2 separate regions of the Homo sapiens genome follow, and region 2 is linked to region 1. Evidence: fine-mapped expression QTL. A gene starts in region 1. The other region holds a variant in brackets. All regions are shown on one strand. Distances are between the middles of the regions. Region 1 holds the start of TMEM238L (transmembrane protein 238 like). Region 2 overlaps TMEM220-AS1 (TMEM220 antisense RNA 1).

Region 1 (15,338 bases):
TAAGTGATTGGCTTAATAAATATCAAGATTCTCATCAAATCTTAGTTTCCTCTCCTTACCCTTCCTTGCAGGCAAAGCCGATGCCTACCTCTCTCTGCTCTCTGGATTCTGCCTCAACCTCCACCTTGGATGTGATCACAGGTTCATCTTCGTCTATCACGTCAGCATCCTCTTTTCCTCTCTGCTGACTTTCTCTCCTCCACTTACCGTCTTGCTCAATGTTCTATATCCCTTCTCTAAGAATTCCCACCTTAGCACGGTTATGCCAGCAGGTGACTGCCCTACCCTCTTAATCTCATCACCAAATACTTTGAAGATGAATCTGCACTCACTCCTCACCCATCTTCAGCCACCCGATAAGTAGCATCATCTGATTTCTGTCTCCACCATTTACTGAGAAAGGCACATTGCTGGGTCTGCCTAACTGCCTTTCCTTAGGCTTCAGCCTTTTTTTGATGGCTTTGAAGTGTTTGATGGTCAATTCCCCTCACTCTTGATAATTGTCCTTCTTTGTCCTCTTTGCCATTGGCATAACGTCTCTTCCTTATTATTACTGGGAACTTCCATTTGGGCTCTTCCATCTGCTTTCCTTTTCCCGTTCCCCACATGCAGGCATGGATCAAGGTTCTGACTTGGCTCCTATAGGAAACATACGTGACTAGGCCAGGGGCTGGCAAATGTTTTCTGTAAAGGGCCAGGTAGTAAATGTCATAGGCTCTGCAGGCCACATAGTCTCTGTTACCATTGCTCGACCCTGCCACTATAACATGAAACAGCCATAGATAATATGAGAGTGAACGAGCCAGTCTGTGTTCCAATAAAACACTATCTACAAGAACAGGAGGTGGGCCAGATTTGGCCCATAGGTTGTAGTTGCCTACCCCTGGTCTTATGGAAAGAGCATAAACCACAGGGTCAGATATACCTGGTTTTACAATCTGGCTCGATCACTGCCTAGTTCCATTATGCTGGGCAAGTTACTTAACCTCCATACACCTTATTATCGTTATCTGTAATAGAGAGGAATAATAATGATTATGATGATAATACTACTTTCCTCATGGCCTTGTTGATAGGGTGAAATGGGATAATGTGCAACCCTAGGGCCTGGTTCAGTGAATCTTAGTGTTCTTTTCTCCTTTCTTCCTCCCCCCTTTCCTTCCCTCTCACCCTCCCTCCTTCCCTCCCTCCCTCCCTCCCTCCCTTCCTTCCTTCCTTCCTTCCTCACTCTCCCAATCCCTTTTCTCTCTACATCCTCACCCTCTGTAATCTCATCCACATGTCTCTAACCCCTAACCTCTCCCTCCACATCTGATCTTTCTTCTGAGTTTAAAATCTGCACATTCAATGCCAATTAGGTAGTTCTGCTCGTATACGATTTGCATATCAAACTCTGCATGTTCAAAAGAAAATGAATCATTTTAAACAAACTCATGCCTTTTTCTGACCTCCCTCATTCCATGCCCCAGGGGCGCTTTCTGAAGGCTTTGACAATGCCACCCCCGATCTGCTGTAGAACAGGACAGGCCGTTCTCCACTCATGCAGTCTCTGCTCTTCTCCCCTCCCCTCCGTGGCCATCATTTCAGCTTGAACCCTTTTATTACCTGCCACCTGAGCTTGCTGAATGGCCTTGCTGTCTCTCTGCTGCTTCTCTCTCATCCATTCTGCACACGATGCTCAGTTACTCTTCTACAGGCAAAGCTTGATCATGTTGCTCTCTAGTATCTAACACCACTGAAGACTCCTCCCTCCTCTCCTAGTGTCAGACTCCTCACCTGGTGTTCAAAGTCCTGCACAGCCGGCACTGAAGACTCCAACCCCCAGGCAAATGTGCCTGCTTAGCTTTTCCTAGACACCCTAATTCTTTCATTTCTGCAGTCCTTCCTTTTGCCTGGACTGCCCCCTACCCACCACCCACGGCTGCTGTCCCTGTGCCATCTCTACTTGTCACATTCTTACCTGTTCCTTAGCAGCCCAGCCAGAACCACACACAGCACGCTTCCCCCAGCCAGGAGGTTCTGTGCCTCCTCTCAGCTTTCAGAGCCCTGGCAAGACTGTGCTTATCTCCTGCAATGCATTTTCCCTTGGAAACTTTGTGAAGTATCGTGCACATGCTTTATCTCTCCCCTTAGATTAAAAATCCCTGGAGAGATTAGAGAAATGTTTGCTCCTCCACACAGCCCTGGCACCATGTCTGCATGGGGCACAGATTCATTGAGCAGGAGAGGAGGGCTTTTTACCAGGCTCACCTTTGAGCTGACTTGGCAGCTCCACTGGCCTCCTCTGTGGGCAGAGGGGAGAGGCTGCCTGTTGGAAAAAGTCGAAGTGGAGGAACAAGTTTCATTTTCCAAGGCTCAAGGCTGTTAGCCTTTTGGCTTTGGTTGGTGTGAGAGTGGGTGTGTTTGTTTCTGTGAGTGTGTGTTTCTGGGTGTGTGTTTGGTAGGTGTGAGTGTGTGGTGGGTGTGTTTGTTTCTGTGAGTGTGTGTTTCTGGATGTGTGTGGTAGGTGTGAGTGTGTGGGGGGCGTGTTTGTGTGTGCATGAACACGTGGAGTAGAAGAGGGATGTGTGTGTACGTGTGTGGGGTGTTGGTGTGTGTGTATTGTTTGGGTGTGTAGTCTTGGACACCCTATTAAAAAAGGACAAGAGTCTTCATCTGACTTTGCTTGGGGACTTATCTTTATCTGCAGGAAATAACCAAGAAGTGGAAAATGGAGCAAAAAAAAAAATCTGAAAATACAGTGACCAGGTGATAAAATCAAACGGCAGCTTGTCTCTCTTGGAGCACAGTTGATCTATAAAAATCAGCCACTCGCCCTGAAACTTCCTGGGGGTGCCTTTGAGGTTTAGCAGCCACCCTGCCCTCTCTCTGGAGAACCACGCAGGCTGTGGGCAGAAGGCTTGTGGGGCAGCCAGGCCCCTGCCTTGTCCTGACCGAGCATGGGACCTCCTCATCTCTGGGGCAGGGTGGGGGCAGGTCCTATCAAACTCATTTTTTAATTTTTTATTTTTTGGGGGATGGAGTCTTGCTCTGCCGCCCAGGCTGGAGTGCAGTGGCACGATCTTGGCCCACTGCAATCTCCGCCTCTCAGGTTCAAGCTATTCTTCTGCCTCAGCCTCCCAAGTAGCTGGGGTTACAGGCACATGCCACAATGCCTGGCTATTTTTTGTATTTTTAGTAGAGACGGGGTTTCACTATGTTGGCCAGGCTGGTCTCCAACTTCTGGCCTCAAGTGATCCTCTGGCCTTGGCCTTCAAAAGTGCTGGGATGACAGGCATGAGCTATCATGCCCGGCCTCAACCTCATCTTACAGAGCCTCTGAAGGCTGAGCTAGGAATGTGGGCATCAGCTCTGAATGCAGGGAGCCCACATTCTTTCCTTTTACCCCGCTCTGAGAATGAGAGAGCTGGCAAAGCCAGTTACAATCTGCCCGTAAATCGTGAATGTGTCTGGAATTGACATATAGGCCAAAGGTCGTAGGCTGTAGGGGAAGTGAGACGAGCTGCTTTTCAAATATTTTTTGGCATCAGAAACTTGTGTTCATGTAAAGTCTTACGTGCCAGTTTAATGTGCAAAGCTGCTGAGAGCTCCACTGTTCTGGGTGAAATGTGTGTTACGGGGTGGGTAGGGCTGCTGGACTCCTGTCCCCTCACTCTGCCCCTCACCCCAGGCCCAATTCCCTTCCAGGGACATTGGCAGAACACAGTTTGAAACCTCCCTTGGAAACCACATCTTTTTTTTTTTTTTTGAGACGGAGTCTGGCTCTGTCGCCCAGGCTGGAGTGCAGTGGCGTGATCTCGGCTCACTGCAAGCTCCGCCTCCCGGGTCCACGCCATTCTCCTGCCTCAGCCTCCCAAGTAGCTGGGACTACAGGCACCCGCCACCATGCCCGGCTAATTTTTGTGTATTTTTAGTAGAGACAGGGTTTCACCGTGTTAGCCAGGATGGTTTCGATCTCCTGACCTCGTGATCCGCCCGCCTCAGCCTCCCAAAGTGCTGGGATTACAGGCGTGAGCCACCAGGCCTGGCCGGAAACCACATCTTTAACTCTAAAGGGAAGTAAAATGATTCGCCCAAGGCCATGGGGTGGAGGAGGGTTGGGCAGCCCCATAAGTGAGCAACGTCCTGAACAGCAGGACTCAGCACACACGAATCTGTCACTCTGGGCCATCCCTGAAATGTGTCAGGGGATGGAGATGCAGTAAAGAATACAATAAAGAACATATTAAAACTTCTAAAGTTTCTTTGAACCAGGACAAAACTCTAGCATTCTGGAGCAGCATTCAGTCTCATATCTACTGAAAAATCCTAATGTTGTACATTGCCATTAGAACTGATCGTAATGCGTCAGGGCCTCACCCTCTGTAATGTGCTGGCTACCTGCATCGTGACTGACGCTTTATTTAGTCATCACTTGCATAGTGCTGAACAAATATTAATCCACCTAATCTGGGCAACATCTTTATGACGTAGTGGCTATTATTAGCACCATCTCCATTTTACATATTTGGAGTAATGGGGCACGGAGAGGTGAAGTAACTTGCCCCAAGTCACGTTGCTAGAAAGGAATAAAACTGGATTCAAGCCAGAGTCTAGGTATGGCCCATGCTCTTCAACGCCGGGCTATTGAACTTCTGTTCAATGAGGGAAGGCTGTTCAGGGCACGGAGCCTCACACTGGGGACTCTGTGTTGTTTGGGTACTTGTCTTGGCTCCCCAAATGGGTTTCAGCCGGTAATAATCATAACCATAATAACCTATACTGTGGCCGGGGTGGTCTCTTGGAAACACAGGTCCAATTATGTTAAGCCCCTGCCTCTGCTTATATCTCTTCAATGGATTCCTTTTTACTGTTTTTTTTTTTTTTTGAGACGGAGTCTCGCTCTGTCACCCAGGCTGGAGTGCAGTGGTGCGATCTCGGCTCACTGCAAGCTCCGCCTCCCGGGTTCACGCCATTCTCCTGCCTCAGCCTCCCAAGTAGCTGGGATTACAGGCGCCTGCCACTGCGCCCGGCTAATTTTTTGTATTTTTAGTAGAGACAGGGTTTCACTGTGGTCTCGATCTCCTGACCTCGTGATCTGCCCACCTCGGCCTCCCAAAGTGCTGGGATTACAGGTGTGAGCCACAGCACCCAGCCCTCAGTGGATTCTTATTGTTCTTCAAGTAATGACCAAAATCCTTCAGAGGGCCCTCGAGGCCCTGCCAGATCTGGCCTCTGTCTACCACAGAGCCCTAACCCTCACCGACATTTGCTCTCTGCCCTTCAATCTCCCTGTCGTCTTTTATTTCCTGTTATCCCAGGACCTTTGCCCAAGCCATTGCCTCTCCCTGAAAGACTTTCCATTCACCTCCCACTCTTCCTTTGGCATTCAGCATAATATCACCTCCTCCAGGAAGCTTTCCCTGACTCCATCTTCTGAGTCAGTTTCTCTATTGAATATTCTTGTGGCAGGATGCTCCTCTCCTTCCTAGAGCAGACCTGACTTTGTTATTGTACTTTTGTAAGTGTGAATCTTTGGTGAGTGTCTGTCTTTCTCACCTGATGGTAAACTCCCTGAGAGTAGAGCCCCCACGTCATGTGTCTTTTTTTTTTTTTAATTGAGACAGGTCTCACTCTGCCGCCCAGGTTGGAATGCAGTGGTGCAATCTCTGCTCACTGCAGCCTGTGCCTCCTGGGCTCCAGCAATCCTTCTGCCTCAACCTCCTGAATAGCTGGGATTACAGGTGTGCATCACCATGCGTGGCTAATTTTTTGTATTTTTGGTGGAGATGGGGTTTCACCATGTTGCCAAGGCTGGTCTTGAACTCCTGACCTCAAGTGATCTGCCCGCCTCGGCCTCCCAAAGTGCTGGGATTACAGGCATGAGTCACTGTGCCTGGTCCATGTGTCTCATTTCTTATCCCCAGTGTCTTGCACAGTGCCTGACACATTCCAACATACCAGCACACAAATCAGGGACCCTTTTTGCTCTGAAGTTTCCTGATGCAAAGTGTGAGTTGACCCCCATCACTACCAATTTGAGAGACACCAAGGTACTTCACATTTGGACTTTGGGTCAGTTAACTCATCCCAGATTATGTGTTTTGTATGCTTGACATCTGGTGTAAGAACCACATCAATTGTACAGCCTTTCCCTGCCTTATCTCTTTTCGATCCTTGCAGCAATAAGGGCCAGAAATATTCTCTTCATCTTACAGATGAGAATCCTGAGGCTCAGAGTGTGCAACCTGGCCAAAAACACCCAGCTAACAAGTGCTGAAGATCAGAGTGGGACTGACTTCTCATCTGTTTCTACATCATTTCCTAGGTATGGGCTTACCTTACTCTACTGAGACCTCTTCATTTTGCTTCTCTTTTCTCTGAGTTCTGAGAGTCAGGTGTAATCCCCCACAAAAGACACAATTATTATTTCCTTCTTTCAACTCAGCAACGACCTTTGCTCTTACTTCTGGTAAGGGAGTAAGAAACGGGAGTGCCTGGATACACCTGCGTGCAGGTTGGGCCCACCTGGGGAGGAGGGTATGGCTGCCCAATGGACCGTGGCTCTGACTTCAGTCCCCTGGAGACAGCTGTCCATCTCTAATTCAGGGTTGTAAGGACCAGACCACTCTATCTCTGGGACTCTGTCTTGATGTGAAAAAATCTTACAACTCTCTGCCTCTTTGGTTGCACGCGATAGACTGAGCTGTGACATGCAACTCAGCGGATGAAATCCATGAAGCCAAACTGTCTTGACTTCTGGGCCTTGGAGACTGGCTGGGCACATGTGTTGGCTGCGTGTGAGTGTGAGTGAGGGTGGGGTGGGAATACTGCAGAGAGAGGAGGTGTGTGCACTGAGTGGGCATGGAGGCGAGTAGTCCCTACCCCGCTTCTTGTATCCCATCTGGGCAGGTGCAGGGAGGAAGTGAACGAGAGGGGCCGTTCTGGGTGGTTCTGCTCTGTTTGCTTTTACCGTGGCCCAGTTCACACCCCTTCATGTATGCAAGGGCACAAGAGTCATTGGGGAACTTTCCGTCCTCTCCTGTGCTAAAGACTTTTCTCCCCAGCAGAGATTCTTCCCAACAGAGAATGCAGATGGGGTCTTTTTGTCCCCAAGTTCCGAGGTAAAGGGATAACTTCCCATTGTGCCCAGAAGCCAGGATCATTCGTGGTATATCAGGGGTGGAAGGGGCTGTTGAGACTCTCTTTCCAGCCTCTGCGAGGAAAAGGGCCCGGAGGAGAAAACACCTGCCCCACGTCCTCTTGGCTGGCCACCCCAGCAGGACCTGAGGCCAGGGCCACAGGATCCCCAGTCAGGGTGCAGTGTCTGGCTATTTGCTTATGCAGCCTCAGGAGGCCTGGTCTTGCCCCTGCTTGTCCAAGCCTCTCTGGCCACCCTGCCAGGTAGGTCTTGTGTGCACTCACCTGGTCCCGGCGTGGCTTGCTAGGTGGAAGCTGCAACGTGTTGCTGCCCAAGAGCCCCAGGTTCACAGACATGTCTGCATACAGCACCTGCGTCTCTTCTCCTCTTCCCATGGCCAAATTACAGGTCCAGTTTTTCAGGAGACACCTCAATGTTGAGGGAATACCAGATGATCCAGAGCAGTAGGCTGAGAGCCAGGATCAGGGCACCTGTGTAGATGAAGAAGTCCCAGGAACTCAGGGGGGCCAAGATCCCCAGCAGCAAAAGGACCAGGCCGACCGCGTCCAGCAGGAGGGCGAGGATGAGGAAGAGCGCACAGCGCCCTGGATGGCATCTTCCCCACAGACTCCCCAGGAGCATTGCCCAGGAGGAGCGGGAGGAGCCCAGCTGCACTCCCGGGGGTGATTTGCATGGGAGGGTGGCGGTCCTGCCTGCTGCTGCCTTCTCTGCCTGCTGGGTGTGAGCAAATGAGCGAGCTGGCGCTTCTTGGAGCCACAGGGAAGTACACGTGGGTCTACCTTTATGAGCACGGCAGCCAGTGGGGCAGGATATTTCTTAACTGTTTCATGGCTCAGGAATGATCTGGACCCAAACAGTCTGACATCACTGTTAATTGGGCTGCTCATCGCTGGGACCTACAATCCATGTGGCAGAGGAGTCAGGGTGCCCTTGGATGCATCTGCCAAGTTGGCGGTCCTGTGATTCTGGGGGAGGGGCTGATCTGTGCCTTGTTCTCTAATCCCTGGAAGCCAGAGAGCCTGAGTGCCCTGTTTCTGAGACACAGCTGCTTCATCTAGTATAGCGGGGTGGAGTGGTGGAGTTTCCATTCCTCTTCACCTCCCTGCCCTACTCTCTTCCTTGGGGGAAAAGGTTTTATGTAAAGGACATAGACAAGAGTTTGTAAGATCAATCGATTTTGAAGCGTTGCTGTAAGAATTGGTCCATGTTAGCAAGAGAAGTTTTGCCTTCTTGTAGAGCCCTCACTCTGCAGACGGAAGGATCTGAGTTCCCTAGGATAATGGACAGTAAGGATAAGGGCGGGAAAGGGGTAGAGATGGAAAAGACAGAGGGGACAGAGAGAAGACAACAGGGTGAGAAGAAACTTCTGGCCTCTTCCTGCAGTGGATTCTGTGTGGACCAAAGGGCAATTCCCAGGCAAAAGTCAAGGGATGTTTCCGGGGCCTGTTGCCTCTGTGTTTTCTACATGAACTCATTTTATGTTCATTTTCTTTCTCATAATAGATGACCCTGTAAGCCCTTCCAGACACTGCCTGCATCCCTTCTACATTGATGGGAGCGATCTTATCCCCGTGGCTGCTCACGGCGGGTGTGGGGGTGAACATCAAATGAGGAAAATGCAGCGGCAGTCCTTGGCAGGGCTGCAGACAGCCACCCCTCTGTCCCTGATTCACAGGGAGGCTAGAACAGGGCACCAAACCTTTCTGGGCCTCAGTTTACCCAGATAAATGAAGAAAATAATTTCCACTCTCACTTTTGCCTTCCCCAGAGGGTGAGAATAAGTAGGTGGATCTGATTTCCTTTTTTTTTTGAGACAGAGTTTCATTCTTGTTGCCCCGGCTGGAGTGCAATGGTGCGATCTTGGCTCACTGCAACTTCTGCCTCCCAAGTTCAAGCAATTTTCCCACCTCAGCCTCTGGAATAGCTGGGATTACAGGTGCCCATGACCATGCCTGGCTAATTTTTGTATTTGTATTAGAGATGGGGTTTCAAACTCTACTTGGCCAGGCTGGTCTCGAACTCTGACCTCAGGTGATCCGCCCGCCTCCGCCTCCCAAAGTGCTGGGATTACAGGCATGAGCCACTATGCCCGGCCTTCATTTTTCTATGTGTAAAATAAGCCAGGATGAGAAAGAAACTTTCAGAAAATATTTTGGGGAAGGTGGCAGGGGATGACCTAAACCATAGCTCTTAGGATCTGAAACGCCACGAGACTTGAGCCAAGCCAGGTGAACACTCTGGACACCTCAAAGTGGGAAGTAGCTGAGGCCAATCTCCATCTCAGTACTTGCCTCCTGTCCCACTAGGTCCTCGGAAGGGGCCAGGTACCTACAGAAACACCTCACATTGCTGGGGAAGCCATGACTCTTTCAATTTTTTGTTCCCCCTGTAGGAGAGAGTCTCTTGGGAAAAACTATTGATGGACAGCAATGGCCTCTTCCCAGTGCCAGGACAAGCACTGCTGCTGTGTCTGCACAGGGCTGGGCTAATGAGTCCTGGTCTAGCCATATACAGGTTCCCAGGTCCCTTTGCAGAGTCCTGTGTGTGTGGCTCTAGTCCACCATGGACAACAATTTAGCACTAAAATTTCTGCATGCTGGAAAATCCTTTGTTTCTGGGTCAACTGGCATGGTTGGTCAATGTAGTCCCATCTAACTGGGCCACATCATACTCTCAGTTCCGCGGTCTGCGTTCTCTCTCATAATACCTGGCCATTCTGGCAAATCGCTAACCATGGCCCCACTCCAGGTGACTGGCCAGGCTGTGAAGTGCCCCTCCACCTCTGCCCCTGTGTATCTTTCTTACTCTTGTTTCCCAAAGTTACCACTCCTGTGTGTTGAGGCAGCCTCGGTATTTGCACAGCTGGGAGAGACCTACTGGGACGTTTGATGCAAAGCCAGGTGAGTCTGGAGCCCTGGAGGGGGGCAGGCTAGAAAGAAAAGAAGGGAGATGAAAGTGAGTAAGGAGGGTGGCTCCAAGTGTGGGAACCAGAAACTGCCTGGGCGGAGGCAGGCGTGGACGAGGGGCAGGTGATCAGAGAGCAGTTTGCTGCACCCCCGTTAGCAAGAAGAACACCACCACCCTCTTCTTCTCACGGAGATCCTTTGTGACTTCCTCACTTGCCAAGGCTGGATCCACAGCTGGAAATAGCTGCATGCTTTGCCAGGGCTGCTGTAACAAAGCACCACAGCCAGGGTGGCTTGAACAATAGAAATGTATCATCTCCCAGTTCTGGATCCTGGAAGTCTTGAGATCAAGGTGTCTCCAGGGTTGGTTCCCTTGAGGGCTGTGAGGGAGAATGGGGTCCAGGCCTCAGCCCTAGCTCTGGGTGGTTTGCTGGCCATCTGTGACGTTCCTTGCCTTGTAGATGCACCACTTTGATCTCCGCCTTTATCTTCACATGGCGTTCTCCCTGTGCGCATGTGCGCATGTCTGTGTCCACATCTCCCCTGTTATAAGAAGCACCATCCTGCTCCAGTATGAACTCATCCTAACTAATTAGATCTGCAAAGATCCTACTTCGAAATAAAGTCCCATTCTGAGTTACTGGGGGTTAGGATTTCAGCATATGAATTGGGAGGACAGAATTCAACCACAGCCCATAGCAATACCTAAAAGGTTTGTTTGTTTATTTGGACATCCTTTGATTTCTAGCTGTAGTATAGATAGAAAATTTAGACTCTCAAGCCAAGTTTTCAGAAAAAACATAATTGCAAAGTCAGCACCCCATTGAAGGTGGCCCTCCATGCCAGCAGGCACTGCTTCAACCCCTCCCTGTCTCTCCTGGGGACACGGAGGTGCTGTTGGCTATGTCTGTGTCCCTGGGCGAGAGGCTGAGAAGGTGGGGTCTTCTCACCCTGCTTGGGTTCTGGCTGCTGTCACCTCTATTCACCAAGCCAAGGTGCTCATTCTCCACGAGTGGGTAACCCTAAGTGACCCCTACACATTTTGAAGTTTGAGCTGAAGTGGGATTTAAATTGAACCAATATTATTAGCACCTACTATGGGTCAGGCAGCAGGATCAAGATCAAGTATGATCTTGATCTTGACCTAACATCACAGACATAAGATGCTAAGAGTGGAGGCAATAATTAACACATGAATGGTATAATTTCAGATTATATTGCAATTTAATAATTTCAGAAAAAAATCGCAAAAACAGGGAAGTATAAGACAGTAGGCATCTGTTACACTCCTCTGGACATTTGCTTTCTGAACCATAACATGGTGTGGAAGGCACAGGTGGACGCCTAGCCCCTGGCCTGCAACTTCCAATTTGGTCACTGAGGGCCCCTCTGCCTCTCTCCTTCTGCGATTTTGCTGGGCTGTTGGGGCTGCAGCCACCCCTGTGCCTCTGAGAGGTTTGTCTTTCTGCTGCTGTCTCACAGCTCCGCCTCTTCTCGGCAACTGAGACGTTGTCACTCCCTTGGCAAAGTCATCATGATTTGTCATCCGTGATGTCACCAGATGACAGCCTCTCCATGACCTGGATCCTAAAGGGCAGGCAACTGACACCAGGATGGACTAGCTAGGTGCTCAGCTGACCCAGCGTCACAGATCCCAGACCTGACTCCATGAATGACAAAGGCCCAGTCACATCCTGGGTGGCAGGCTCAGATGTTGGGTGGGTCTAGCCATGCCGGCCTGTTCATTAGGTCTGCCTACCTTTTCATGGTGCAGAGCTTAGTAGAGTGCCTAGCTGTGCCACTCACTTGCTGTGTGACCTTGAGCAAGTCACTTACCCTCTCTGTGCCTCAATTTCCTCATAGGATTACTGTGAGGCGTAAGTGAGTGCATGGGTGTGAAGTGTTTAGAACCCGCACTCTGTAAACAGGGACAAGTGTTATTGTTGTGGTTGCCGCTGGGAATCTTTACATTTCTGCCATGATGCTTATGTAAGGAAAAACCCAGGTTGGAAGGCATCCATCCATGACTCTCTGGCACCATCATTTTCTCCCCTTTACCAACCTGGGCTTCACTTGGTAGCAGCTGCCTGGCCCTTGGCCTCCCCATACTACCCTCACTAAATCTATTAGGACGTGCAGTGCTGTCTCACCATTCTTCGATGGGTACAAATCCTTTATTTTCATGAACTCCTCTTCCCAGATCCATTTTATCTTTCAGATCCCTTACCTCTACCAAAGTGGCTCTTTATCTTCACCATCCTCAAATCCCTCAACGCCCCCTAATCTCGTAATCCAGTGTTTATCAAGCTTCACTTATTGTTTAAGTGTACCATTCCCTGCAATTTGTGTCTCTTACTTATAGAATATTACATTCGTTTGTTAATGCTATATTATTTTGTTAATTTTTAAAAATGGATTTGTTGTCTCTACTAAAAAAATACAAAAAAAATTAGCCGGGCATAGTGGCGGGTGCCTGTAGTCCCAGCTACTCGGGGGGCTGAGGCAGGAGAATGGCGTGAACCTGGGATGCGGAGCTTGCAGTGAGCTGAGATTGTGCCACTGCACTCCAGCTTGGGCGACAGAGCAAGACTCCGTCTCAAAAAAAAAAAATGGATTTGTTAAAACTGCAATCAGTTATTGTCACCATCAGTGAAAAACTGGTGTGACTTAGACAGAAAGTACTTGGGAATAAATATACTGAACACAAAACAATTGTAATTAAATCAGACCAGGGGTACTCAAACTCTTTCTGTATTGGGCCAGATAGTAAATGTTTCGGGCTTTGCAGGCAATCTTGTTGGTCTCCGTTACAGCCATTCAACACTGCCATTGTAGTGTGATATGGTTTGGCTTTGTGTCCCGACCCAAGTCTCATTTCAAATTATAATCCACATAATTCTCATTATCCCCAACTGTCAAGGGAGAGACCAGGTAGAGGTAATTGGATCATTGGGGTAGTTTCCCCCATGCTGTTCTTGTAATAGTGAGTTCTCACGAGATCTAAGGGGCTCATCCCCCTTTGCTGGGCACTTCTCCTTCCTGCCACCTTGTGAAGAAGGTGCCTTGCTTCCCCTTTCCCTTCCACCATGATTGTAAGTTTCCTGAGGCCTCCCCAGCCATGCTGAGCTGTGAGTCAATTAAACCTCTTTCCTTTATAAATTACCCAGGCTTGGGTATGTCTTTATAGCAGTATGAAAACAGACTACTGCATGGTGAAAGAGCCAGAGATGATATGTAAATGAATGAGTGTGGCTGCATTCCAATAAAACTTTGCTGTAATCCCAGCACTTTGGGAGGCTGAGGTGGGCAGATCACCTGAGGTCAGGAGTTTGAAACCAGCCTGTCCAACATGGTGAAACCTTGTCTACTAAAAATACAAAAAATAACTGGGTGTGGTTGCCCATGCCTGTAGTCCCAGCTATTCAAGAGGCTGAGGCAGGAGAATCGCTTGAACCAGGGAGGTGGAGGTTGCAATAAGCCGAGATCGCACCACTGCACTACAGCCTGGATGACAGACGGAGACTCCATCTCCAACCAAACCAAACCAAACCAAACAAAACAAAACACCTTTATTTACAAAACCAGGCAGCAGGTCAGATTTGCTGATTTCCAAACTAGACATTGTTGCCTACTGAAATTGCTCTCTTTCTCAAATAAAGACCCAAGACTCACAAAGTTTAGAGAGGTACATAAAACATAATAGCACCAACCAGTGGCTTTGTCCTGGAAGTCATAGGAAAGATTGAATGAAAATTGAAATGGCTATGCCTTTTAATGTGAGCCTGTCTGCCAACTGAAATCCCTTCCCATACTGCCAGGGATATAGTGCCAGAATCTGGAAAAATGTTGACCCTGATCAATGCTCCCCAATCAATCTTCATTTACTCCTCCTTTTTCTCAGTGTGGGACTTAGGGTCAGTATTTTCAGAAATGTATTCGCTCTTATCTTAGTGACCCCTGACAATTTTCAGAGCTCTTCATTCCTCCTCTGTTAGGCTACCCACAGGGTCTTATAAGAATTCCCCAAAGTGCGCTGCCTGGACCTCTGTAATCCATGCTCGAGGACCCTCCCTCCAGCTCAGGAAACTCTAGCCCTCTTTTCTGGTTTTCCTATCTTATTCCCTACTGGGCTGACCTAAACCTTCATGACTCCTGTCCACATCTCAAAAGCATCCTCCCATTACCACCTCCTTGCTGCTCATCACCTTCCTTCTCCGCAGGTTGGTAACCTTGCCCCCTTTCAGCAGATAATAATAGTATTTCCATGCATTTGTGTTGCACTTTATGTACAATGGACATCGATCTACATCCAGCATCTCCTTGTCCTCCCTGCAGCCCTGTTCCTCTTCCAGAGTTGAAAGCCGTTAAGAGAGTTGCCTAGGTTCAGCCAGCAAGTAGGTAACAGAGCTGCAATTAGAACCTGGTCTTGTCGTCTCATGGGCATTAAATACAAATACCAACTCTTCTCCCTTTCCTCTTCCCCACCCTTGTGTCAGTTGTTTCCCAAATCCTCAGATAATCAAGTTAGTTTCTTTCTTATTCCCATTTAATTAATTTTTTTTTTTGAGACGGAGTCTCACTCTACTGCCCAGGCCAGGCTGGAGTGCAGTAGCACGATCTTGGCTCACTGCAACCTCCGCCTCTTGGGTTCAAGAGATTCTCCTGCCTCAGCCTCCCAAGTAGCTGGGATTACAGGCACACGCCACCACACCTGGCTAATTTTTGTATTTTTAGTAGAGATAGGATTTCACCATATGGGTCAGGCTGGTCTCAAACACCCGACTTCAGTTGAGTCACCTGCCTCGGCCTCCTAAAGTGCTGAGATTAAGGCATGAGCCACTGTGCCTGGCCTTTAATTAAGTTTTTAATTAAAAATTATTTATTTTCATTGTAGAAAATGTATGTGACTAACAATTTGCTGCCTTAACCATTTTTAAGTGTACAGTTCAGTGGCATTAAGTGCATTCGCATTGTGCCACTATCGCCACCATCCACCTCCAGAACATTTTTATTGTCCTGAAATGAAGCTCTGTGCACATTACATACTAACCCCCCAGACTGCCTTCCCATAAGCCCCTGCAACCACCATTCTGCTTTCTGTCTCTGTGAGTTTGACTACTCTACCTACCTCATGTAATTGAAATCATACTATACTTGTCCTTTGGTAACTGGCTTCTTTTTCTTAGCATAGAGTCCTCAAGGTTCATCCGTGTTGTAGCATGTGTCAGAATGTTCTACCTTTTAAGGCTAAATAACGCTCCATTGCGTGTATTTACCACATTTTATGTATC
Region 2 (15,338 bases), 26 kb before region 1:
AGTTGTCTTGAAAGGTCAGTTTAAGCAGGCATTGGAACAGGAGAGGAACAGCCTCTGCTCCTGGGGCATGTGGCTGGAGACTCCTTGCTGCCCAAAAGACATAGTCCCACTCCTTGTGCCTGGGAAGCCAGGCCAACCAGTCACCACTGCTGCTCTCGGCCACCCCTGCCCGCTGCTCACTGTCCGAGGGTGCAGAGCTGGGCCTATATTTTCCCATGAGGCCATAACTCTGCATCAGCCGCAGCAACCATGAGCTCTATCTGGTTTCAAGACAATTTCATCACCCCTAATGGAGACTCCACACCCCTTAAGCAATTACTCTCCATTCCTCCCATCCGCAACCATGAATCTGTGTTCTGTTTCTATGGATTTGCCTATTCTGGACATTTCATACACTATGTGGCCTTTTGTGTCTGACTTCTTTCACTACGAGGTTCATCTACCTCAAAGCATCTGTTTCTACCCCAGGCCTAGTTAGTCATGCTGGTCCTGGCCAGCGGTTGGTCCCTTCCTCTATGTTCTAGCCAGGGTGAACTTAAAAATTGTCACTGGGTCTGGATGTTGGGGATCAGCAAACGTGGGTCACTGCCAGGAGTACCAGGCCCCGAATCCATCTTTCCATTCTGGGTGAGGAAGATGGATGGGGAGGGATTTTCTGAGCTTGGATTCTTTCTTCAACCCTTGGCCACTCAGAGCTGGGGTATGGGTGAGGCCCTCTAAGAGAGTGGTGTGGGGTGAAGCCCTCCCTGGCCTCCAGCTGCCACCTCAGGATCTTTGCATCTCCTGTCCCCATTCTTTGCCCAGATGTTGGCATACCGCCTCCTAACCACCTTTACTCAGACAACACCTCCTCTGCTGCTCGGCCTTAAATTCCAACTCTTCATCTTGCTTTTTCTTGCTTTTTTTCTTAGCATTAATCACTAGCTGGAGTGTGTGTATGTGTGTGTGTGTGTGTGTACTGTTATTTATCTTGTTTTCTGTCTTTCCATTCAACCAGAATGGAACTCCCATAATTGTGTCTTTGGTCTGCTACTATGCACCCAGTGTCTGGCACATAGTGAGTGCTTGATGAGTATTTATTGAATGGATGCATGGATGTCTGACATTCATGCCCAGGGGACCTGCAGCCTTGATGCTGGTGCCATCCTAGCCTCGAGTGTGGAGGTAAGCCTGAATTTGGACATACGGCTACCTTCCTTAGCCCCAGCATCACTGGCTTCAATGCAGGTATGGCCAGAGCCTGCTCCAGCTAGGCCAGGGGTCTGGCCAGACAGGTCTGGGGAGGAAGGCAGGTGTCTGACTGTAGACTTGAATTTAACCCAGTCTTTGCCAAAGAAAATGTTGTGTGACTTGCACAAGTGAAACTTGAAGTTCTGTAAATCCAGTTGCTCCAGTTTTCTGTGTGGACAACTCAGGGGGAGCATTTTCCTGAGTGACATGTGCTGGTTGACCTGAGATCATTCTGGGTGTTTCATTCCTCTGATCAGAGAGAGCAGGGAATAGACTTAGGTTTGGGAGATTTTCCTGAATTCTGATATCTGACAAGTGTGATGAATAGTGTTCAACAAACACGAAGGAGATCTTTAGTCCTGGAGTGGAAGAGTAGGAACCTGAGGCACTCCCGTTTAGGTTTGGGTGTGGATTATAGGAGGGAGAGTCCTAGTCCAGGAAAGCAGGCTGTGTTCCTCGTATATTATGAAGTTGTCGGCTGTGTGTGTCTATGGCTATGTGTGTTTCTGTGTGTGTCTCTGTGTATCTGTGTGTTTGTGTGTCCATGTGTGTCTTTGTGTGCTTATCTTCGTGTCTCTGTGAGTTGAATAAATGGGGATCTGAGGGGCAGTTCTGGGTTCTTTGTCCATGGCAGTCGAGATGATCTCTGGTGTGCCTGGTGTTTTAGTGGCAATTTAGCTCTCTGAGATGTAAGCATAATTGCTTTCTGTCCTTCTGTTTTATTTCTCTAACAGTGGTTTTCAACCCTGGCTGCACATTAGTCCCATCTGGAGAGCTTTATAAAATACTCGTGTGTGGGTATCACAGCACACCAGTTAAATCAGAGTCTCCAGATGTGGGACCAGGGCACTGGTATGTTTCTGAAGCTTGACAGGTAACTCTAATTGCAACCAATGTAAGGTGTGTTCTGAAACCCTTTAGTGAGGATTAGGGGGAACCACACTAAACTTGAGACCTGGAGGTTTTGTTACTGGCTCCATCATTAAGTTGCCTTTGACCTTGAACAGGCCACTTTGTCTTTCTGGTCCCTTAATTTTTTTTTCTTTGGTAGGATGCAGATAATTGCATTATCCACATGGATGTGCTTCCTGCATGGTTGTAAGGTCAAATGTGTGAAAGGGCTTTGTGCATTCTGAAAGGATACAAGAACGCAAGAAAATATTATTAGCATTATTTGTGTTAGCCCCTTGTAGAGACCCAAAAAATGGGGCCAGAGATGGGCGTACAATTACAGCAAGATCGTAGTGAAAGAAAAACCGAGGAGCACATCCTGCTACTCTGATTTAGTTTTCCCAAGACCAGGCAAAGCCAAGAACGCCTATGCTTGTAATTCCAGAAGCTGACACTAGGGGGTGCCCGATTCATGGCATGGATGGCAAAGATCTCATTTGACGACAATTTCCTGTTCCCTTTGGTTAAAATAGTTTGGCAGGGCTCAGTGGCTCGCTCTTGTTTGTCCCCAGCTGTATGCAAGGAGGATCCTTGAGTCCTGGAGTTTGAAGCTGCAGTGAGCTATGATCATGCCACTGCATTCCAGCTTGGGCAGCAGAGTGAGACATGGTATTTAAAAAAATAAAAGTAAAATAATTTACTAAAATAACCATTTAGATATTAAGGTGAGAGTGTAAATGCCTTTCTCACACTATCTCTGTGCAGTCAGATGGTGGTTTTCATTCTGCCCAAGTTCCCTTCCTATGTTCCACCTCTCTTGATTCTTCTGGCCTTTGTAGTAAAAATCCTTCTTGGGCCTGAAGCTGGGCTTGCCCACTCAGATTTCAGAGAAACATCAAACAGCTTTGGTTGCTGGCAATGAACCAGGGAGGAGGCCTATCTGGCTCCTCTGCAGACTTAATTAGCTCTTGAGCTGCTCTTTCTGTCAATCTGGCCTTCTCTGCTCCTCCCTCCCTCTTGCTTTTAAGGAGAGAATCTCATTTTCTGCTCCCAGGGGCCCATTCTTTGCAAGCCACTTTAGCTTTCTTTCCTTTCTGTGATCAGGAAAGCCGGATGTAGATGTCAAGGAGGGTAATTGTAAAAGCTGACTGACACTTTTTCTTTCTGCAATTAGGGAAGCGTGACTTTGACAACTAAGCCAAATCATTCATTCCCCTGCCTTTGAAACTCACCCCTGGGTACAAGTTATTTTGCATAAAATTACTCAATATTTTCATAGAACCAACCCGGGGACTGCTACCCAGTTTTCTTCTGAGTCTAGGTCATTTGTTTGTTTGTTTGTTTTTTTCTTCTCTTTTTCTAAGTATTTGAAAACACATCTGAAATACACAGTTGCCAATGTTATGGGTCAGTTGCTATAAATACAAACTTTTTGGAACAATGCACATGAAATGATGAACAATGAATGCCTCTGGGGACAAGACTGGATGTTTGAGCTGGTTCATGTTCTCGTATAAAATCTTCTAAAAGCAGGGAGCTTGGGGTACCTTAGCTGACTCAATACCATCTTACCTTCACTCCTTCAGGCCTTAGAGAAAAGGATTAGAAGGAGGGGACTTCTTTCACCCTACGGTCACGCAAGCAGACCAGGTCCCCAGCTATCCTTTCTTGTAGCTTTATGGGAATATGGAGAGTGGGTTTTCCAGGTGAGGTGCTCAGAAACCAAGGAAGGAAGACCCTGGGCAAATTGCTAAATGCCAGATGCTGTCAAAGCAAAGTCCTCATGGACCCCAGTGGGAGGAAGAGCTTGTGTGGTGACCCAGTGTAGACAGGACCCCATGTAGTTTCTGGACTCTGGAACAAGATCCTTGACTGCCATCTTTTGTCAGGTCCTCTTCACCCTTTCCCTCTACCCTCACTTCTTCCCAGCTGCATACCCTTCCCCTTCTTGAGCAAATTCTATGGAATCTTGACCCAGCTCCCTGTCAATCCATTCTCATAACACCTGCCTTTCTCTCTTTCCTTCTTTCTGGAGTCTCCTTTTCCATTTCTGAGAAATTCTTCCTTTCTCCAGGGGCAAGTCTTTCTACTTCTCTCCTTCTTTCTTTCTCTTTTTTTCTTTCTCTGTCTCTCTTTTTTTTTTTTTTTTGAGACAGAGTCTTGCTCTGTTGCCCAGACTGGAGTGCAGTGGCACAATATCAGCTCATGGCAACCTCTGCCTCCCAGGTTCAAGTGATTCTCCTGCTTCAGCCTCCTGAGTAGCTGGGACTACAGGCACATGCCACCGTGCCTGGCTATTTTTTTTTTTTTTTTTGTATTTTTAGTAGAGACGGAGTTTCACCCTGTTAGCCAGGATGGTCTCGATCTCCTGACCTCGTGATCCGCCAGCCTTGGCCTCCCAAAGTGCTGGGATTACAGGCGTGAACCACCGTGCCTGGCCTCTTTCTTTTTCTTGAGACAGGGTCTCGCTCTGTCACCCAGGCTGGAATGCAGTGGCACAATCACGGTTCACTGCAACCTCGAACTCCTGGGCTCAAGAACTTCTCCCACTTCAGCCTCCCGAGTAGCTGAGAATACAGGCACGCACTATCACACCTGGCTTTGTTCTTTCATTGTAGACCATCATGGCCCCTTAGACCTGACCTGAAATCACCAAAGACCAGATCTTCCTTTTTTAAGGCAGGCAGGTCTTAATCTCACAACCTTTTAAGTTTCATATTGCAATGGTCTGGCCACTAATGGTCTACTTCTTTGTGTTTAAATAAAAGCAAATCTGAATAAAACCCAAGTTTTGGCTGGGTGCGGTGGCTCATGCCTGTAATCCCAGCACTTTGGGAGGGCGAGGCAGGTGGATCATCTGAGGTCAGGAGTTCGAGACCAGCCTGGCCAACATGGTGAAACCCTGTTTCTACTAAAAAAATACAAAAAAATTAGCTGGGTGTGGTGGCGGGTGCCTGTAATCCCAGCTACTCGGGAGGCTGAGTCAGCAGAATCTCTTGAACACAAGAGGTGGAGGTTGCAGTGAGCCGAGATTGCGCCACTGTACTCTAGGCTGGGTGACAAGAGTGAAACTCTGTATCAAAAAAAAAAAACCCAAGTTTTAAATCAAGGTGTATTTGCTTTTCTTTTCATTCCAGCCATAGTGAGCAGCTTTCTGGAGCAGGTGTGGCCCACCCCATTTCTAGGACTTTGCACTTGCAATCCCTGCTGCTGGGAACACCCTTCCCTTCACTGTCCCTTCATTTTCCCCACTCCTTTCTTTTTATAGGGTTCCTTTTGGTCATCTCTTCATCCTGTAAATGCATAATTCTCAAAGTATTTTGTTAGCACACGCCAGACTTTTATTCAACTCATGAGTGAGGTGTGGTGAGCTGTTACAGTAATGGTCCTCAGTTTATCCACACCTCCCTGTGTCTGCAACTTCCCACCCTGCTTGCCCATATGACTTGCCTTGACCCGTGGGACATGACAAATAAAATATGGGCCGACACTCAAAAAGTACTTGCATGTTGTTGCTTACTCTTGCTCTTGTTCTTGGAACCCAGCAAGTAGCAGATAAAAACCACAGGCCTGCCTGCCAGATGATGAGAGACACAGGGACTCGTTGTCCCTTATACAGGTGAGGGCATTTTAGACCACGGAGTTTCCAAGTGTCCTGCCAGTTAATTATAGATGTGTAAGCAGACCAGCAGACATTAACTACCCCAACCAGAAGAACTTCCCAGCACACAAAATCATCAGTAAAGAAAGGCTTCTTGTTTTAAGCCACTCAGTTTTGGAATACTTTGTTACACAGCTGAGGCTGACTGATACGTGAGAGAATCAGCAGGAAAAAAAAAAAAAAACAAGTTCATTGAAGATATGAGGAACTGGGATTTATACAGCAAAAGGAAAAAGAATGCTGAAATAAGACTGCAAAATTCAGTGTAAAACTGGTTAATACCTAACCAGGCAATAAAAAGTAACCTTTGGAGTTATCTCAAAGACTCATAGATGGTGGCATTTAGGAAATTAAAGAAAACTTTTATCTTTAACGAGCATCAAGGAGTCAGCCTTTTCAGAAGGGCTGGCTTGCCAAATACAAAACACAACGAGCATTTGAAGAAAAAAAAACCTGCAAAATGACCAACTCATAAAGTTTACATTAACCTTTTCATGGTGAAAAACATATTTCTCATATCATCCTCATAATCCCAAAGGTCACAGCAAATCTTCAGATATCAGCATAGCAAAATTCAAGGAAAAGATGATTTTGTTAAAAAAGAGTCTAGGTTTGTGGGAAATAGCCAAGGTTTTGTGATGCAGGTGACCTGAGCCAGGCAGGGAGATCTTGTTATTTTTGCTTAGTTTTTTTTCTAGCTGTAGTAGATAAAGAATGCAATGATAGCAGTGAGCCGAGATCATGCCACTGCACTCCAGCCTGAATGACACAGTAAGACTCTGTCTCAAAAAAAAAAAAAAAAAAAAGAGGAAGAATGCCATGATACCGGAATTAGAAAGTCTCAGTGTCAGTTTTTATCTTTACACTTCTTTCTTGGACAGAAAAAAAAAAGGGCTTTATCAATTTTATACAAGTTAACTTTTTATTTTATGTCTAGGCCCTTGCCAAGAATGTATCAAATAAAGGTACATTGCATAAAAGAGAGTCAGATGACCCCCAGGTGGGATTTTTAGAAAATGCTCACCGGGCATGGTGGCTCACACCTGTAATCCCAGCACTCTGGGAAGCCAAGGTGGGCGGATCACCTGAGGTCAGGAGTTCGAGACCAGCCTGGCCAACATGGCGAAACCCCGTCTCCACTAAAAATATGAAAATTAGCCTGGCATGGTGGTGGGTGCCTGTAATCCCAGCTACTTGGGAGGCTGAGGCAGGAGAGTCGCTTGAACCTGGGAGGTGGAGATTGCAGTGAGCCAAGACCGCACCATTGCACTCCAGCCTGAGCAACAAGAGTGAAACTCCATCTCAAAATAATAATAATAATAATAATAATAAGAGAGAATGCTCTAGCATGGATGGTTGGTCACACAATCTTTTTTTTTTTCTTATATCTAAGTCGTGTCATTTCCCTAAACAAATCTTTCCCTGACTGCAAGCTCAAGGTAAGTGCCGCTCCTTCTGGCTGCCATAGTGCCTGAGCCTATTTGTCACAGTCTCCTTTAATCCTGTGGATGCCTGTTTGTTTGTGAAGTCTCCTCCTTTAGACTACGCCCTCCTTGAGGTTGGCGACGTATGTTATACACCTTTGGATCCCCAAAGTTTAGCGCAGTGCCTTGTACAAGCATTTGGAGAATGATTCTATCAATTTATTTTTTCCTCATGCAACCAAGGACAGTATTTCCCCTACTTGGCAGCACCAGAATTTCCAGGGGTGTATTGTTAATCAGCTTCCCAGGTGATTTCATTACAGTGATGTGCAGGAGGCAGCTGGCACTGGCTGGTGACAGCCGTTTCTGAGCATTTTCTGCCAACTCTGTGTCCAATAACAACACATTGGTAGTTTGAAATTGAGCACGGTGGGAGTATTTACACCACGATATCAGCAAATGTTACAAATCAGGGCGTTTTTTTTTTTTTAGATGGAGTCTCGCTTTGTTGCCCAGGCTGGAGTGTAGTGGTGTGATTTCAGCTCAGCACAACCTCCACCTCCCAGGTTCAAGCGATTCTCCTGCCTCAGCCTCCCGAGTAGCTAGGACTACAGGCCCATGTCACCATGCCCAGCTAATTTTTTTGTATTTTTAGTAGAGACAGGTTTCACCATGTTGGCCAGGCCGATCTGAAACTCCTGACCTCGTGATCTGCCCACCTTGGCCTCCCAAAGTGCTGGGATTACAGGCATAAGCCACCGCACCCGGCCAGGGCTTTTGTTTTTGAGAGCCTGTTTACCTGCTCTCCACCAAGTCTGCTCATCTCTGGTCCAAAGACTAATGTCAGAGAATTGTT[A/G]ACTGAGGGTGAGGTCGGCAAACTATGCCTGCTTTTGTACTGCCCATGAGATAACAATAGATTTTAACATTTTTAAAAAGATTGTGAAAGAGGAAGAAGGAGAAGGAGAAAAGGAGAACAAGGCGAAGAAAGATGGGGAGGAGGAGGAGAAGAGGAGAATGAGGGAGAGGACAAGGAAAAAAAAGAAGTAGTGATAGAGACTGTATGTGGCCTGCAAGGCTTAAAATGTTTAATATGCAGCTTTTTATGGAAAAGTTTTGCTGACCCCTGACCTAGGGAAGCTCCTTAAATCTGACTGCCTGGTAAAATCATCTTAGAGCTTTTTTTTTTTGAGATGGAGTCTCGCTCTGTCGCCAGGCTGGAGTTCAGTGGTGCGACGTCAGCTCACTGCAAGCTCCACCTCCCGGGTTCAAGCGATTCTCCTTCCTCAGCCTCCCAAGTAGCTGGGATTATAGGCGCCCACCACCATGCCCAGCTAATTTTTGTATTTTTAGTAGAGACAGGGTTTCGCCATGTTGGCCAGGCTGGTCTCGAACTCCTGATCTCAGGTGATCCACCCGCTTAGCCTTCCAAAGTGCTAGGATTACAGGCGTGAGCCACTGCGCCCAGCCTCAGTTTGGCTGTTAGAAGGACTCATTTGGATGCACGCATTCCACATTAAGGTGGATTTCTAAATCCTGCTCTCCCTATGCTGTCTGAAGAGGATGCTGGCTTAGCCCACTGTCCCCCAACACCCACTGTAGGTCCTGCTTCCCCAGAAGGATTCTTTTGAACTTGTGCAGACTGAAGATACAGGAGAGAAGGGGAGGCTGGGGACAGTAGCCTGCTCCAGATCTCCATATGGAAAGTGTGGGAGGCTGGAAAAGTTGACAGTGAGGAACTTGAAACTGCATTTGACATTGGGCATGCCTATTGTCAATATTGAAGAATGAATGAAGGGATGAGATTGTGGGAGGCTCCTAGTCCCCTAATTCCCCTTAGCACCAGATAGAGGGATTTGAAAATGAAGTGTGAGACAGGTTTACAAGCAGACGGTGTAAATAGATGGGAGACAAAGCATATTTCAAAGACGTTTTGCTGTGGCCCACATGTAGAGACCCTTTTGCAGAGTTCAGGGAATACAAAATCTAAACAACTTGAGTTTTTAATTTATTTTATTTTAAAAATTAACATCTAATAAAGTTGACATTCTTTCAGAGAATGTATAGTTCTATGACTTGTAATCCATGCATAGATATGTTTAAACACCACTATAATCGGCATGCAGAGAATTCCATCACCCCAAAAACCTCTCCCCTGCTATTCCTTTGTGATCATATCACCACCCCAACCCTAAGCCCCAGCAAGCACTGAGAGGTTCTACATCATTATAGATTTGTCTTTTCAAACATGTTCTGTAATCATACGGTATGAAACTGACTTCTTTCACTCATCTTAGTGCCTTTGAGATTCATCCAAGTTACTTCAAGTATCAAGAACTCATTCATTTTCCTTGCTGAGTAGTATTTTATGGTATGGATGTACCACAGTGTGTTTATTGATTCACAATTGAATTTTCAGTTTTGGGCAATTGTGAGCAGAACTGCTATAAACGTTGGTGTTTTTGTGTGGACATAACTTTTCATTTGTCTGGAGTACATGTGCAGGACTGGTATTCCTGGGTCATCTGGTAAGGAATATATCTGTTTAACTTTATAAGAAGTTGTCAAACTGGTTTCCAGAGTGGCTGTACCATTTTCTGTTTCCACCAGCATTGAATGAGAGCTCTGGTTACCCCTTGGATCACACATACTGCTAGTATTTTCTATTGTAGTTATTCTAACAAGCATGTAGTGATATCTCGGAGTGGCTTTTATTTGCATTTCTCTAATGGTGAATGATGTTAAACATATTCACCTTCCATATGGTGTATTTTGTTAAAAGGTTTGTTCAACTCTTTTGCCCATTTTAAAATTATTTTGTTGTTGTTGTCATTGTTTTCTTATTAATGAATGTTGAGAGTTCTTTCTTTATTTTTTTACTTTTATTTTTTGAGACGGAGTTTTGCTCTTGTTGCCCAGGCTGGAGTGCAATGGCGCAATCTGGGCTCACTGCAACCTTTGCCTCCCGGGTTCAAGCGATTCTCCTGCTTCAGCCTCCTGAATAGCTGGGATTACAGGTGCCCACCACTACATCTGGCTAATTTTTTGTATTTTTAGTAGAAACAGGGTTTCACCATGTTGGCTAGGGTGGCCTCGATCTCTTGATCTTGTAATCCACCCATCTCAGCCTCCCAAAGTGCTGGGATTACAGGCGTGAGCCACCGCAGCTGACCCAGGATTTCCTTTTAAAGCAGTTTTTAGCCACAAATTTAATTAAAAAAAAAAAAAGGTGATTCACATCATCTATTTAAACTTGGATGAGTTGTGGTCACTTTTGGCTTTTAAGGAGTTAGTTCATTTCCTCTAAATTATCAAATTGATGTCCATAGAGTTCTTCATAGTATTTCATATTATCTTACTACCTTTTTCAGGTCTGCAGGATCTGTAGTGATATCTCCTCTTTCATTCTTTTTTTGTTGTTTTTTTGAGACAGGGTCTTGCTCTGCTGCCCAAGCTCAAGTGCAGTGGCATGATTATAATCCACTGAAGCCTAGACTTCCTGGGCTCAAGTGATCCTTCTCCCACCTCATCCACCCAAGCAGCTGAGACTACAGATGCATGCAACCAGGCCCGGCTAATTTGTGTATTTTTTTGTAGAGATGGGTTTTTACCATGTTGCCCACGCTGGGCTCAAACTCCTGAGTCTCTTAACAGAGACTTTTGCAGAGACACTTTAAATGAAATTTTAATTTTGATGAAGTCAAATTCATCATTTTTTTTCTCTTGTGGATTATGCTTTGGATGTCATTCAACCACTTCTTGCCTAATCCCAGTTCACAAAGATTTTCTGCTATTCTTTTAGAAGTTTCATATTTTTGGTTTTACATTTAGGTGTTTGATTCTTTTTGAGTTAATTTTTGTATTTGGTGTTAGGTATAAATCAAAGTTCGTTTTTAAAAATGTAGATATATACTTATTTCAATATCAATTATTGAAAGGACTGTCTTTTTTGACTGAATTACCTTTGCATCTTTGTAAAAAATCAGTTTTCCAAATATGTGTGGATCTATTGTTGGACTGTTATTCTGTTGAATTAACCTAATTTTCTTTCTTAATGCCAATATCATATGATCCTATTTAATACAGCTTTATAATGAGTCATGAAATCAGGTAGTACTACCTTTTTGTATTTCCATGTGAATTTTAGAATGAACATGTCAATTTCTTTAAAAAACCCTGCTGAGATTTTTATTGGAATTGTTTGAATCTATATATCAATTTGGAGAGCATTAAATCTCAAAAGTATTAAACCTTCTGACACATGAATATCATATGTCTCTTCATTTATTTATTTATTTATTTATTTATCCATTTATTTAACTTCTCTCAGCAATGTTTTATAGTTTTCAGTGTAAAGAACTTTTCTTTATCAGAAGACTTTAAACTGCAAATTCAATTTGTTTAATATATAGAGAGCTATTCTGGTATCTATTATCAATAGTTAACTATTTTCAATAGATAACTATCAATAGTTACTATTATCGATAGTTGCTATCGATAGTTACCTATTTCTTCCTGAATAAGCATTTATAGTTTGTATTTTCCAGATAATTTGTTTATTTCATTTAATTCATCTAATTTATTGGCATGAAATTATTCATAATATTCATTTAGTATCCTTTACTATTTGCAGAATCTGCAGTATGTCACCTTTCTCATTTTAATTTTTTAATTTTTTATTTTTTTCTCATTTTTAATATTGGTAATTTGTGTCTCATTTATTTTTCTAATCACTTTGGCTAGTGGTTTACAAATTTTACTTATCAAAGAACCAGCTTTGGGTTTCACTGATTTCTTCTATTTTTTTTAATCGACTATTTATTGGTTTTTGCTCTGATCTGATTTCCATTCTTCTGTTTCATTTGGGTTTCTTTTGCAGTAATTTTGCTGATTTTTTAAAAGATGAGATTCTAGGTTGTTTCTTCAAGAAGTTATTTTCTAAATAAGCATTTCAAACTATAAATTCCCTCTAAGTATTGCTTTAGCTGCATCCTACAACTTTTGATAAGCTGTGTATCATTTTTATTTAATTCAAAATACTTTCCAATTTCTCTAATTTCTTATTTATTTCTTCTTTGACTCATGAATTCATAAAAGTGTGTTATTTAGTTTTCACTTATTTAGGATGTATATATAGATATAGATGTAGATATAGAAGGGTTTATGCATATATTATAAGTACCACAATATACTATTCTTATTTTTGTTTAAACATCTACTTATCTTTTAAAGAGATTTAAATAATAAGGAAAAGTCTTATGTATTTATCCAAGAAGTTACCCTTTGGCTATTCTTCATTACTTTGTGTAGATCTGTATCTCCATCTGTAATTTTACTTCTGCCAGAGGAAATTCCTTTATTATTTTCTGTAGCATGGGGCTGCTAGTGATGAATTGTTCTAGTTTTTGAATATCTGAGAAATCTTTATTTTGCCTTTGGTTTTGAAAAATATATTTGCTGGGTAAAGAAATTTTGGTTGTCATTTTTTTCCCCAGTACTTTAAAGATATTGCTACATTGTCTTCTTTTTTACATTGTTTTTGATGAGAAATACATTGCCATTCTTATCTGTGTTCCTCTGTAGCATGTCTTTCTGTCTTTCTCTGGTGCTTTCAAGTTTCTCCCTTTATTTGTTTTGAACAATTTCATTATGATGTACCTGAGTATAGTTTGCTTCAGGTTCTTGTGGTTGATTTTCCTTCTCATTATGGGTCACATTTTCCTGCTTCTTTGCATGCTTGGTAATCTTTTTTTGGTTGCCAGACATTGTGAATTTTAACTTGTTTGGTGATGCTAGATATTTTTGTGTTTCTGTAAACATCTTGGAGCTTTGTCCTGGGACACAGTTAAATTACTTGGAAATAGTTTAATCCTTTGGGTGGGGAGTTGTTTTTAGACTTACTATACTAGAGTAGCATTTAGTGTAGAGGTAATTATTCTGCACTACTAAGTACTGAGTACTTCACTTAATGCATGTATCACGTGGGTTTTTATAGTGTTTTGTTGGACCAGGCATCCTTCCTACTCCTGCTGAACACCTTCCACTCTCCCCTCCAGTCGTTTCCATGGTTCTTTTCCCAGCCTTGGGTAGTTTCCTCACACACACATGCCAATCAGTACTCTGCTGAACAATCTTTTGGAATTCTCTGCAGATTTCTGTCTGTGCAGCTCTCTCCTCCTATCTGATATTTTGCCCTTCAGACCGTAGCTGATTTCTTCTCTCTGGACTATCACTTCCTTCTAACTCGGGGAGTCTTCCAGCCTCCATTTATGTTCCCCTTCCTTATACCGTGGTCTAGAAACTCTCTAATGCCATAAGCTGGGGCAACGGTTGGGCTTATCTCTTTTTTCCCATCTTTCATTTATCACTGTATTTCATTGCCTGATGTCCACACTTTTTTTTTTTTTTTGAGACAGAGTTTCACTCTTGTTGCCCAGGCTGGAGTGCAATGGCGCGATCGCGCCTCACTGCAATCTCCACCTCCTAGGTTCAAGTGATTCTCCTGCCTCAGCCTCCCAAGTAGCTGGGATTACAGGCATGCGCCACCATGCCAGGCTAATTTTGTATTTTTAGTAGAGACGGGGTTTCTCCACGTTTGTCAAGCTGGTCTCGAACTCCCAACCTCAGGTGATCTGCCCACCTCAGCCTCCCAAAGTGCTGGGGTTACAGGCGTGAGCCACCATGCCCAGCCTCCACACTTTTGTAAACTATCATTTTATATGTCTTGTTTGTTAATTTATTTTTTGTTATTTCAGGCAGGAGCATAAATCCAGTCTTTGTTATTCCATCTTAGCCAGAAGTGACTCTTTAGGGTCTAATCGTAATTCAGAAGTTCTGGAGTTGCTCTATATAAGAATCGCTTGATGAGGCTTATTAAAATGCAGATGCTCCCACACAGCAATATGGTGTCTGGAGAGGGAGAAAATAATCTGCATTTCAGTGAGGTACTCTGGCCACAATTTCAGAAGTGCTGACTTCAGACATCCTTCCATCTTTGGCCTACAACTGTAGTCTTCTTTATAGATTTCAAAGTGCTCTGGAGTCAGATTGATTGTTTCCAGTTCCATCTCTACTTGTCACTACTGTAATATCTTATCTATCATAAAAAGATAACCCAGAGAAGTTAAGAAATTTGTCTGAGATTACAATTGGTGACAAGTAAGGTTACGATAAAGAATAAATTATTTTGGCACATGGTAAGCCCTCAGTAGATGTTAGTTATTATTGTATGTATTGTATCTCTTGATAGTTATAAGAGCCCATTTTACAGATGAAATTGGAGCCTTGGAGGAAGGTATAGTGACAAGGTCATTTGGCCAGCAAGTTGCAGAGCTGAAACAGAAACCCGGGTCTGACTTCTAGTACGAAACATTCTCTTTCCTCAGTTGATGGTTATATCAAGGTGGAGGGTTACCAGCAAGGGGAGAGGAACCACAGGGGTGTGTGTGTGTGTGTGTGTGTGTGTGTGTGTGTGTGTTTGCATTAATGAGGGGAAACTGCATTACACTTTGCAAGAGGGACAAGTCAGCTATTGTCATTTAACTTTGTGGAGATTTCCTCCAAACTTCGGGGTTTTATGTTATGCTAAGTCCTCACTACACTCCAAATTAAATCCCCTGTTGCTGGAGTTCCACTGATGTCTCTTGCATGTCTCTTACTCTGCCTTCAATATTTAGGAAATTGGAAGTATGTGTATGTATGGAGGGAGGGTAGGACTCTGGATTTGTGATCTGGTTCCTTTGCCACGTCCGTCAGTTTGGCCCCCAGTCCCATCTGCTCTAGTATGGCACATTCAGAAGCTCTTCAAGTGTAAAGCTATTTATAATACAGAGTAGGATCTATTTATAGATAAGGTAAGTTACAGTCACACAACCCTGAGCCACTCAACTTGCCTGTTTGGTTCAGGTTTGAAGCAATTAACTGCCCGTTTCAAACAATCCACCTCTTTAATTACCCTTTCATGCTTTTACCCTTTAATTCCATGTCTAGATCTTCTCTGAGTTGAGTTCTCTTTTTAAGCCTCTTTGGCTTATGGGGAAAATGGTATTTTTTTTTTAACTTTAATACAGGGTCTACCAAGCCCATTTCAAAAGTTATGCTTATAAAGCACAAAGACTTTCCCCATGTAAGGTAGA

What was found.
Region 2: its variant is fine-mapped to the expression of TMEM238L in nasal epithelium (TOPMed, PIP above 0.99).

Annotation. Positions count from the first base shown.
Region 1 is chr17:10,796,202-10,811,539 of GRCh38, forward strand. It overlaps TMEM238L (transmembrane protein 238 like), which reads right to left and starts at 7,898. Exons shown (of 2, transcript NM_001388428.1): 1 at 7,405-7,898. The coding sequence starts at 7,762. The coding sequence ends at 7,523. It overlaps TMEM220-AS1 (TMEM220 antisense RNA 1), which reads left to right. Exons shown (of 4, transcript NR_073458.1): 2 at 6,198-6,307; 3 at 9,962-10,041. RefSeq lists enhancers at 2,385-2,886, 2,887-3,386, 7,517-8,302, 11,051-11,552, 11,553-12,052.
Region 2 is chr17:10,770,044-10,785,381 of GRCh38, forward strand. The region is part of intron 1 of TMEM220-AS1 (TMEM220 antisense RNA 1); the gene reads left to right. Among named protein-coding and RNA genes, the nearest start is that of TMEM238L, 26 kb to the right of the region's middle. The variant A/G (reference allele first, on the strand shown) is at 8,063.